Linked DNA regions of Homo sapiens: region 1 is linked to region 2. The links come from fine-mapping of genetic effects on gene expression. A gene starts in region 2. The other region holds a variant in brackets. All regions are shown on one strand. Distances are from middle to middle. Region 1 overlaps RHOD (ras homolog family member D). Region 2 holds the start of KDM2A (lysine demethylase 2A).

Region 1 (5,364 bases), 47 kb before region 2:
AGGGACCCCACAAAGGCCCCATTTGCTTCCAGGAATGAGGTAGTTTGATGCCAATTTTTGTTTGTTTGTTTGTTTGTTTGTTTTGAGACAGAGTCTCACTCTGTCTCCCAGGCTGGAGTGCAGTGGTACAATCTGGGCTCACTGCAACCTCCACCTCCTGGGTTCAAGCGATTCTCCTGCCTCAGCCTCCCGAGTAGCTAGGATTGCAGGCTTGAGCCACCAAGCCCGGCTGATGCCAATTTTTATCAGGCAAGTTTCATGCCCAAACCAGCCGACTTCAGCCGACTTAGTGCTCCTGGAGATAGGAAGCCCCCTCCCGGGATCCCCGGCTCCCCAGCTGTAGTCCAGGCTGAAAGAACTCGGCCCTGGTGGCCTCACATTCTGCAGAGCAGCCCTCCCTCCACCAGGCAAGCAGTTGAGGCAGACAGCTGCTGCAACCATTTTGTGAGCAGATTTATTTATTTATTATTTTTTTGAGACGGAGTCTCACTCTGTAGCCCAGGCTGGAGTGCAGTGGCTCCATCTCAGCTCACTGCAACCTCCGCCTCCCAGGTTCAAGCGATTCTCCTGCCTCAGCCTCCAGAGTAGCTGGGACTACAGGTGCACGCCACCACGCCCAGCTAATTTTTGTATTTTTAGTAGAGACGGGGTTTCCCCTTGTTGGCCAGGCTGGTCTCGAACTCCTGACCTCAGGTGATCTGCCTGCCCTCAGCCTCCCAAAGTGCTGGGATTACAGGCGTGAGCCACCGAGCCCGGCCTGGATTGATTGATTTATTTTTATCTTTTTAATTGATTTATTTATTTATTTTGAGATGGAGTTTCACTCTGTCGCCCAGGCTGGAATGCAGTGGCGCGATCTCAGCTCCCTGCAACCTCCGCCTCCCAGGTTCATGCCATTCTCCTGCCTCAGCCTCCCGAGCAGCTGGGATTACAGGCACCCGCCATCATGCCCACCTAAATTTTGTATTTTTACTAGAGACAGGGTTTCACTGTTGGCCAGGCTGGTCTCAAACTCCTGACCTCAGGTGTTCCACCTGCCTCAGGCTCCCAAAGTGCTGGGATTACAGGCGTGAGCCACCACACCTGGCCCAGATTTGTTTTTAAAGGATCCCTTACTTCCTTATATGTTTTGCTCAGTTTGGTGGGTGTCCATGAGGGCCCTTACCCTGCAGAGAGGAAAGATTCTAGAACGGCAGGAGCAGGGTTCTGAGCCCCACCCCCAGGCTCAAATCCTGCCATTTCCAGCCAAGGCCAAGTTACATCGCCTTTCTGTGCCTCAGTTACCGCACCTGTACAGTGGGATTGGTTGTGAACTTGCTGCCACGGCCTCGGGGAATTAATGGGTCCATACGTGTAAATTCTTAGATGAGGTTCTGGTACCAAATAGTTTCTCCCTAGGTGCTGGCTTTGCTGATTATCCATATCAGAGCTCAGGCTGGGGAGCAAGAGAGTGGTCCACTGAGAGGGCCAGAACTCTCCAGGGCTCACACATGCCCCCCACATGCCCCCTCGCCCCCCTGCAGTGGTACCCAGAAGTGAATCATTTCTGCAAGAAGGTACCCATCATCGTCGTGGGCTGCAAGACTGACCTGCGCAAGGACAAATCACTGGTGAACAAGCTCCGAAGAAACGGATTGGAGCCTGTGACCTACCACAGGGTAGGAAACCCAGCCCGAGGTGGGAGTTGGGGAGGACTGAGTGAGGGGACCTCTGGATGCCTCTCAGTGGCACCAGGTGTCCAGAACGCTCAGGGTGTAGGTCAGAGCTGCGGTCGTCTTAGAGGCTGTCAGAGGTCAGAAACTTCCAGCACTTAGAAATGGTCCCTAGAATATTCTGGGAGCCTCCACAGGCAAAAGGGAGAACAAGGAAGTAGGCATATCAGAGTCAGTTCCACCACCAACCTGAGACCCAGAGAGGGGGCCCAGGCAGGCACCCACATATTCAGACCGTGGGTCCCTCTCTGCTACACGTCTGGGTTCATGGGAAGTTCATTTCTTGGTGCCTTGAGAGGCAAAGAGGCCCAGAACGGAGGTTAAAAACAACGAAGGCTGGCAGGGCGCAGGGGCTCACGCCTGTAATCCCAGCACTTGGGAGGCCGAGGTGGGTGGATCACTTGAAGTCAGGAGTTCGAGACCAGCCAGGGCAAAATAGCGAGACCCTGTCTCTACCAAAAATACAAAAAATTAGCCAAGTGGTGTGGTGGCGGGTGCCTGTAGTCCTAGCTACTCTGGAGGCAGAGGCAGGAGAATCACTTGAACCCGGTTGGAGGAGCTGCAGTGAGCTGAGATCGCACCACTGCACTCCAGCCTGGACGACAGAGCAAGACTCCGTCTCAAAAAAATAATAATAATAAAAATAAAGAAAAGAAAAACAAACATGATGAAGTGCATGAGGGCGCTTGGGCAAGCAGGGATACGGGAGCCATGGGTGCTCCGCAGACCCCACCTTCCACTCTTGTCCGGGAAAAGGAAGCGAGAACGTGAGGCCTGCCCAGTGCCCCCTTCACCGCAGCCCCATCCACCTCTCCCTCTAGGGCCAGGAGATGGCGAGGTCCGTGGGCGCGGTGGCCTACCTCGAGTGCTCGGCTCGGCTCCATGACAACGTCCACGCCGTCTTCCAGGAGGCCGCCGAGGTGGCCCTCAGCAGCCGCGGTCGCAACTTCTGGCGGCGGATTACCCAGGGCTTTTGCGTGGTGACCTGAGCGGCTCGGGGCGTCCCAGCGACGCGGGAAGGGGCAGGGCGCTGACCTGCTGCTGAGCTGGCTGGGCTGGACCCGGTCCCTAGGCTGTGACCGCCGAACTCCACTGCAACAGACGGGCGCCACCAAAGCCAGGCC[C/T]TGAGGCCTGGGAGTCCTGGACTGAGAAAGGGGGTTCCTGGGCCCACCTGCTCTGTGTAGGGCTCGTCCTGCGGTGCCCGAGAATCACTCGCTAACCCCTATGCCCGGTCCCGGACCGACATCCTGGAGCCGCCTGTGCAGCCTGATGCCCCCTCGTGGCTGCTCCCAGGGCTGCACCTGCCAGGACCTAATGTTCTTAGGTCCCTCTGGCCAGAACCCACACCCGGCCCCTTCCCACCTGTCATACTGGTAACTGTAACAAGAAAAACGACATCACTTATCATTGTGTCGTGCCTCTTTTTTCTGTTTTCTTTTTTTTGAGACGGAGTCTCGTTCTATCGCCCAGGCTGGAGTGCAGTGGCGCATTTCAGCTCACTGCAACCTGTGCCTCCTGGGTTCAAGCGATTCTCCTGTCTCAGCCTCCTGAGTAGCTGGGATTACAGGCGCGCGCCACCACACCCGGATAATTTTTGTATTTTCTTTAGCAGAGACGGGGTTTCACCATGTTGGTGAGGCTGGTCTCGAACTCCTGACCTCATGATCCACCCGCCTCGGCCTCCCAAAGTGCTGGGATTACAGCCATGAGCCACCACGCCCTGCCTATGCCTCTTGTTTCAAGGTGTCTTTACACACACGTTCCAAGGTAGGTAAAAGCCCACCCCATCTAGGCACTGGGATGGGACTGCTTGGATCCAAACCAGCTTTATTGCTTCCACGACCTTGGGCAAGTTCTTCTGGGCCTCAGCTTCCTCACCTGTGAAATGGATCACAGACTAAGCCATGGAACTTTCGGATGAGTAAGAGGGTCATGAGGACCAACACACGCAAAGAGCTTAGTAGGTGCCTAGCACGCAGTAAGTGCTCACAAAAGGTTCGGCCAGGGCCGAGCACAGTGACTCATGCCTGTAATCCCAGCACTTTGGGAGGCCGACGTGGGTGGATCACGAGGTCAGGAGTTTGAGACCAGCCTGACCAACATGGTGAAACCCCCATCTCTACTAAAAATACAAAAATTAGCCAGGCGTGGTGGCCCACACCTGTAATCCCAGCTACTCCAGAGGCTGAGGCAGGAGAATAGGTTGCAGTGAGCCGAGATCACACCACTGCACTCCAGCCCAGGCAACACAACGAGACTCCTTCTCAAAAAAAAAAAAGGTGTAGCCAGGTGCTGTGGCACACCTGTCCCAGCCACGATTGTACCAGTGCACTCCAGCTTGGGCTACAAAGCAGAAAAAAAAAAAAAAAAAGAAAAAAAAGTGGCCGGGTGTGTTGGCTTACGCCTGTAATTCCAACACTTTGGGAGGCTGAGGCGGATGGATCACCTGAGGTCAGGAGTTCGAGACCAGCCTAGTGGTCACATGGTGAAACCCGGTCTCTACTAAAAATATAAAAATTAGTTGGATGTGGTGGTACGTCCCTGTAATCCCAGCTACTTGGGAGGCTGAGGCTGGAGAATCACTTGAATCCGGGAAGTGGAAGTTGCAGTGAGCTGAGATCACGCCACTGCACTCCAGCCTGGGTGACAGAGCGAGACTCTGTCAAAAAAAAAAAAAAAAAAAAAAAAAAAAAAGGATCTTGACTTCTGACTTCAGAGCAGTTGAGGCTTGTGCAAGAAGAAAAATCTGCAAGAAGTCTGCATAAAAAGCATAACAGCAAAACCATCAAGGGCTCCAAGAACACAGGGAAGTTACAGAGGAGAGCTGTCTGAGCTAGGTTAAGCTCACTAGGCTTGGGGAGAATAGGGAAGAATATTCTGGGTGCAGGGTATGCTTAGGGGAAGAGCAATCAGGCTGGAAATGGAAGCTGGGAAAAGTTGTTTCCCATCCCTGAGCAGGTGAGATTAAAAGTTCAGTGGGGCCTGGTGTGGTGGCTCGCGCCTGTAATCCCAGCACTTTGGGAGGCTGAGAAGGGTAGATCACCTGAGGTCAGGAGTTCGAGACCAGCCTGGACAACATGTTGAAACCCCATCTCTACTAAAAATACAAAAAAATTAGCTGGGCATGGTGGTGGGCACCTGTAAACCCAGCTACTCAGGAGGCTGAGGAAGGAGAATCACTTGAACCCGGGAGGCGGAGGTTGCAGTAAGCCGAGATCACGCCACTGCACTCCAGACTGGGCAACAAGAGCAAAACTCTGTCTCAAAAAAGAACCATAACAATAAATTAATAAATAATAATAATTTAAAAATAAAATATATAAATAATAAAAATTTTAAAAAAAGAAACCTCACAGTGGGGACTGGAATCTAGGTAGGGTTTTCCACGTTGGCCCCTAACACTATTTCACTTGCGGCAGCTCGGCCCTGTAATCTGAGCTGTGAGGCCCCACGTTGCTGAAGCAGTCCCCCACCTGGAGCTGTTTCTGATGAAACTTCCGGGACAGGTGTCAGCAGCTGGTTCTCATTAAGGATCATGTGTATCAGCGCAAAAGAAATGGTCCAGTTCGGCTGGGCGCGGTGGCTCACACCTGTAATCCCAACACTTTGGGAGGCCAAGGCAGGTGGATTGCTTGAGGCCAAGAGTTCAAGA
Region 2 (5,320 bases):
TCTCGGCTCACTGCAACCTCCACCTCTTGCATTCAAGTGATTCTCCTGCCTCAGCCTCCCATGTAACTGGGATTATAGGCATGCACCACCACGCCCGGCTAATTTTGTATTTTTTTTTTAGTAGAGACAGGGTTTTGCCATGTTGGCCAGGCTGGTCTTGAACGCCTGACCTCAGGTGATCCACCTGCCTTGGCCTCCCAAAGTGCTGGGATTACAGGCGTGAGCCACCGCGCCCGGCCTGTTCTAAAGCCTTTCTAGGGTTCTCCCAGCATGCCCATCTGAATTAAACTTGGAGGTATCTGATTGCCAAGGGTGTGCAACTCACCTCCTTGAGGGTTAATTACTTAAGGGGGTCTGAATGTTAAGAAAAAGGGCAAGACCAAGTTGAGCTACTCCTAGAGACTTTCTCTTTGCCGCCAAGTATTCCCTGGGTTATAAGGGTGAGTGGGAAGGAAATAAAGCTGTTTATTTTGCAAATAGCAACAAGGCCCAACACTTAATCTGACAATGGCAAAAGCTTTCTCTCCTGCTTAAAAAACAAACAAAACGAGCTGCTGACTTTTTCTATAACTACAGAGAGCCAGATGCTTATGGGGCCATATCTGGTAGCACCAGTGTGAGAGACTGCTGCTTTTAAAATATACTTTACCATAGTCGGAAAGATTTAAAGAGGCTTTAGATCTGATACAGTTTCTGTGATTATCTTCTTCGTATCAGTGCTCTGAAAATCTAAGAAGTCTGAACAAAACTGGTATCAAAATAAAGAATATTTCCCAGTGACTAGAACGCAAGAAGATGATATCTTATTAACAAACCTTTTTTGCTGTTTGTGAGATGTTTCAGTCGGCTGTTGGAGTAATTATGCAAGCTCTTTAACCTTTCTATACTTCAGTTGTCTATCTTTAAAATGAATATAGCGCTAACAGGCACTTTAGCTTGTCTCCTAAGGATGTTGTGAAACAAAGCAGAGAATGTCTGTACAAACTCCCCAAGTTGTGCATGCAGAAAAACCTTCTGTGGTAATAAATAATAATACCTTGCATTTACGTAGCGCTTTTACCTTGGAGTTCAAGCCTTGATAGAATTAGAAGGTATCATTATTTTAATTGTCTCGCTAACGTCCTCCTGAAAGAGTTGATGGCTGTTTATGCAGGTTATATGATTCACTCCATGCCCTACCTCTCTGCTCCATTCCCTGCTTCCAGGAGTCAGAGCTTAAAGAGTGGGAAACCAAGGCAGGGAGAAAAAGATTTGTGTGACACCGCTCAGCAAGGGCGTAGTGGAGCCAATAGTGCCAACCCCGATGTGTAACGCCCCAGCCACCGTCCTTTGTGGGATTTAGAATTTAAACGGGCCCCAGAGCAAGAGATTGGCTGGGGAAATGCCCGGATCGCGGCTGGGCTGCTCGCATGGCACTGCTCGGGTACCTCCGGCCGGGCTCCGTCGACGTTCGGAGCCTGCTGGCCCGTCGGGCAGCTGTCGGGCCGCGGGAGTCGGTCCGTGGGCAGGGCCGGCGCAGCTCGGGCGGCTGCTGCCCCGTCGCTGACCCCCGCGCGAAGCTGCGCGCACCAACAGGAGACATCTTCCCGGCCGGGCCTCCCGCGCCCGCCACGGCCCAGGGCGGCAGGGTCGGGCCGGGGGCCGGGGGCGGCCCGCGCACCCCTCCGTGGGGGGCGCCCCGACTCGCCGGGGGCGGGGTCACGTCCCACCCGGGCCGCCGGGGGCACCGGCGCGGCGGAAAGCTGAGCGTGGCCGAGGAGCGGGGGCTTCCTGGGCCACCTCGCCGGGCGCCTCCGGCCGGCGGTGGGCGCGCCGGCCGCCACCGCCCCCGGGCCGTCGCGGAGACCGCTTCTGCGCCTGGTACCTGTGGACGCCCTTGTTAAGCGCCTGCAGCACCCCCGGGGAGCCGAGCCCAGGACAGACATGCTACTCCTGTTTCCTGCCCCTTCGGAGCGACGAGCAGTGGGTGAGGCGGGGCCAGGCCGCTGCACCGAGGAGCCCCCGGGCCCAGGGCAGACGGGCCCCGTGGCGGCGGCGCCGGGGCCTGCCCGGGAATGGCGGGCAAGCCGGCCTCGGCCCACCGGCCGGCACGCGAAGGGAGGGCAGCCGGCGGCCATGCGCCCCTTCCCTGCGCCCTCTCGCCCTGGGCAGGCCTGAGCCGGGAGCCCAGGTCCCGCGGGCCCAGCCCGGCGGCTTGACCCCGGGAGACCCTGCTTTGAGGCGGGTATCGGTTGCCCTGGCCCAGGCCTCCCGGCCCTCAGGTTGTGTGACTGTGACGGGCAGCCTGGGGCCAAAGGCGGTTGAAGGGGAAGGGGACGCAGATCTCCCACTGCTTGGGGGGGGTGATGTGCTTTGTGGGGGGTCGGGGGTCACCACCCTCCCAGGGGGGTGGGGGAGGGCGGCCAGCACAGCTGGCCGCGAGGGGCGGGGTCGCAGAGGCGAAGTGTGTGTGAGGGTGTGTGGGGGGAGGGCGCGCGGAGGAGGATCGGTGCCCTGCGCGCAGGCGCGAGCAGCCAGCCAGGCCCGAGCCCTGGAAGAACGCCGACGGGGAGCGGGGGCGGCGGGCTGGCGGGAGGGAGGGAGGGCGGGCGGCCTGACGCGAGGGGGCGCAGGGAGCCGCGTCGGCGTCGCGGGGCGCGGGCGATTCGAGGCCGACGCATCCGCGCGTGCGCGCGCCGGCGGTGTGTCCGCGTTAGAGGGGAGTGACGCGTGCGCGTTCACGCGCGCCCGGGAGAGCGGTAAGAAGCGCAGGGAGGCCTGAAGGGGGTGGGGGGGTGGAGAGGCGAGCTGGAGGAGGGGTGGGGAGGTGGCGCCTGCGCAGTGCGCCTCGGAGGAGCTGTGTGTATGTGAGAGTCTGACGGGTTCAAAATGGCGGCGGCTGCTTCAGCGGCTCCTCCTGTGTGAGGGAAACAACACCCCTCCCCGGCAGCGGCGGCGGCGGCGGCGGCTCTCGGAGCACCTTCCCAGCGGCTGGGCCCGTGGCCGCTCTGTCTTTCCTGGGCAGGGGACGCTCCGGGAGGAGGGGCAACGCCAGGGGGCCCATCCCCCGGAATCCCTCTTCTGCGACTGGGGAGTAGCCGGGGGGCTCGTCCCGCAGCGCGGAGCCAGACCTGAGGGGGAGACGCGAGGGGAGCCAGGGCCCCCATCCCGGCGCGCCGCGCCGCTCCCGCCCTGTCCGCCCCCCGGGGCCGGGGCCCGCGTTCCGGGGGGCCGGGGCGGCGCGGGGAGCCTCGGGCCGGCCGGTCTCAGCTGATCGGCCGCTGCTCCCGCAGGCGACCAGCCCCTGCTGGCCGAGGGCACGGCGAGGAGGGCGCTCCCTGCGGCCGGGGCCGGCCCGGGGCTCGGGCCCGGGCTGCTGACCGCTGGCCTGGGGGAGGCGGGGGCGCCCCGGGCTCGGCGCCGAGGGGTCGCGCTCCTCTCTCCTGACGCCTCCGACTCCCGGTCTCCAAAGCCAGAAGAGAAGGTTTGATTCAGCAACTGTTTGCTCCCTTTTCCTGGTCGCTCTGACCCTCTCTGGATACTGGGTTGATCCACGGAAAAACCGAAGACGACGTTTGGGATTTAATTATTCCTCTCAGCTTTGGAATCTTTTACTTCTCACTTGGACAAGAACTCAAGAGCAGAATCTCCGGTGAGTTTCCCCCTCCCCCCCCTCATTTGGAAGTTTGGTTGACTGTGTTATCCAAAGACTGAATGCAAAGTTTCTATCTCTTTTTCCGATGGGTGAACCATTGAAACGCCTTTTCCTGGGGGAGCCCAGCGAGATTCGCCCTTTTTCCTCTCCGGCCCTGGCTGCTCCATGCCCAGGCGGTCGTCGCCCAGGGGGTGCAAGCACGGTTTCCCTCCCGACTTCGGGCCAGGGCTTCCTCCGGGAGGGCTCTGCCTCTAACTGCTCTGCAAACTGTGTCATCGGGTCCTCTGGTCTCGTAGCAGTTTTGAAAGGATGCTGTTAACGTGGCTGTAATGTAGTGACAAAAACGGGGGGAACCTGTGTTCTCAATGGAAGCCATTATCCACGAGAATATTTAGAAAAAAGAAAACCCTTTCTTGGTATTACGGATTGACCGTCGCGCCGGCCGGTCTTTTATTTAATTTTTGGACAAGATGTATTTTCCTTGTATCCTTAGATGCAATCGTTTATTTTATTACTTTATCCAAAAAGATCAGATGGAATTTTGGTCCTTGATTTGCACCTCTGAAATTTGTTTCAGAGTTGTGCACATCTTGTGTTGGGGTGGAGGGTAGATTTGGGAATGATAAGATCCGGGGAGTCTAGAAAGGAAGGCGACGATTGTGCACGGCCTTACAGGAGGGGTATGGGAAATTGTTTTGGGGTCATTTAAATCCTAATTTTTTGTCCTCTTTTTACATAGTCAGTTTGCCCTTCTTTCCTTTAGTTTCTGATTACCGGTGAGAGAGAACTAATTTGGTTAGGATCTGGATTAGTTCAGTGGTGCTTCACCTGGTCAGCTCTCTGGAGATAAAAGTCCTGGGCTTTTTTTTTTTCTTGCTGATGCTGCCATGAAGGAGATCCTTGCTAGTTGTAATCCTGTGGGGAGAAACTGGTGGTGTGGCCCTTCCACAAGGAACTGAAACCAACATCTCGTTTCGTCTAGGCCTCCGACAGTTGTAATGTGATTAATGTTGAACATGACATGGAACCACTTGCCCAAGAGCAGAAAGGTCCCAAACTCATGAAGAGGAACCTGATTTTTCAGAGAGCCTTTAACACTTACCTTAAATACTCCTTTCCGTGAACAGAAAGCACAAGTTTGAGAATGAGTTCTCATTTCTGCTTATATCATTATTCTTTAGTGTTGCAATCTGGTTCCTAAGGAGGAAGAGGAAGGCAGCCCTGGAGTGGTTTCTTTACAGTAATTTCAACAGAAGAGTGAGAGATGGAACCCGAAGAAGAAAGGATTCGTTACAGCCAGAGATTGGTTAGTATTTTCTCCCCCCACCACACCCTCCAGTTTTAAAGTAGGATAACTATTTTGTTTCCAGTTGTGAATATACTGTGAATCTGTGATTAAAACTTTTCGGGTGACTTTTCTGTGCACCAGAGGAGGGGGAAAGGTGTATTAATATCGAATTTGGCTTTTGGCCAAACATGTTTTATATTTTATATATTTATCTTGTTTGGAAATGGAGTTATATGTAGCCTTTAGCTTTTATAGAAACCATTGTATACCAAAGGATTTTGTGGATTACAATGTGACAAAGATTCCTGATTTTACAGTACTGACATTGTAATACATCTGATTACGTTAGATTAGAATATAAATTTTGGGGGCAAAGCTGTTTGAGGAAGGATAGTTCA

Evidence for each region. PIP is the estimated chance that this variant, and not a neighbour inherited with it, causes the effect.
Region 1: its variant is fine-mapped to the expression of KDM2A in whole blood (TOPMed, PIP above 0.99).

The regions. Positions count from the first base shown.
Region 1 is chr11:67,068,902-67,074,265 of GRCh38, forward strand. It overlaps RHOD (ras homolog family member D), which reads left to right. Exons shown (of 5, transcript NM_014578.4): 4 at 1,524-1,658; 5 at 2,534-3,116. The coding sequence ends at 2,701. Among named protein-coding and RNA genes, the nearest start is that of RHOD, 15 kb to the left of the region's middle. RefSeq lists an enhancer at 5,020-5,364. The variant C/T (reference allele first, on the strand shown) is at 2,837.
Region 2 is chr11:67,116,419-67,121,738 of GRCh38, forward strand. It overlaps KDM2A (lysine demethylase 2A), which reads left to right and starts at 2,845. Exons shown (of 21, transcript NM_012308.3): 1 at 2,845-3,631; 2 at 4,816-4,940. The coding sequence starts at 4,899. It overlaps LOC107984341 (a long non-coding RNA gene), which reads right to left and starts at 1,930. Exons shown (of 2, transcript NR_160735.1): 1 at 816-1,930. RefSeq lists silencers at 1,372-1,421, 1,752-1,801, 1,942-2,221, 2,402-2,841, 2,982-3,051 and 2 more and an enhancer at 2,282-2,331.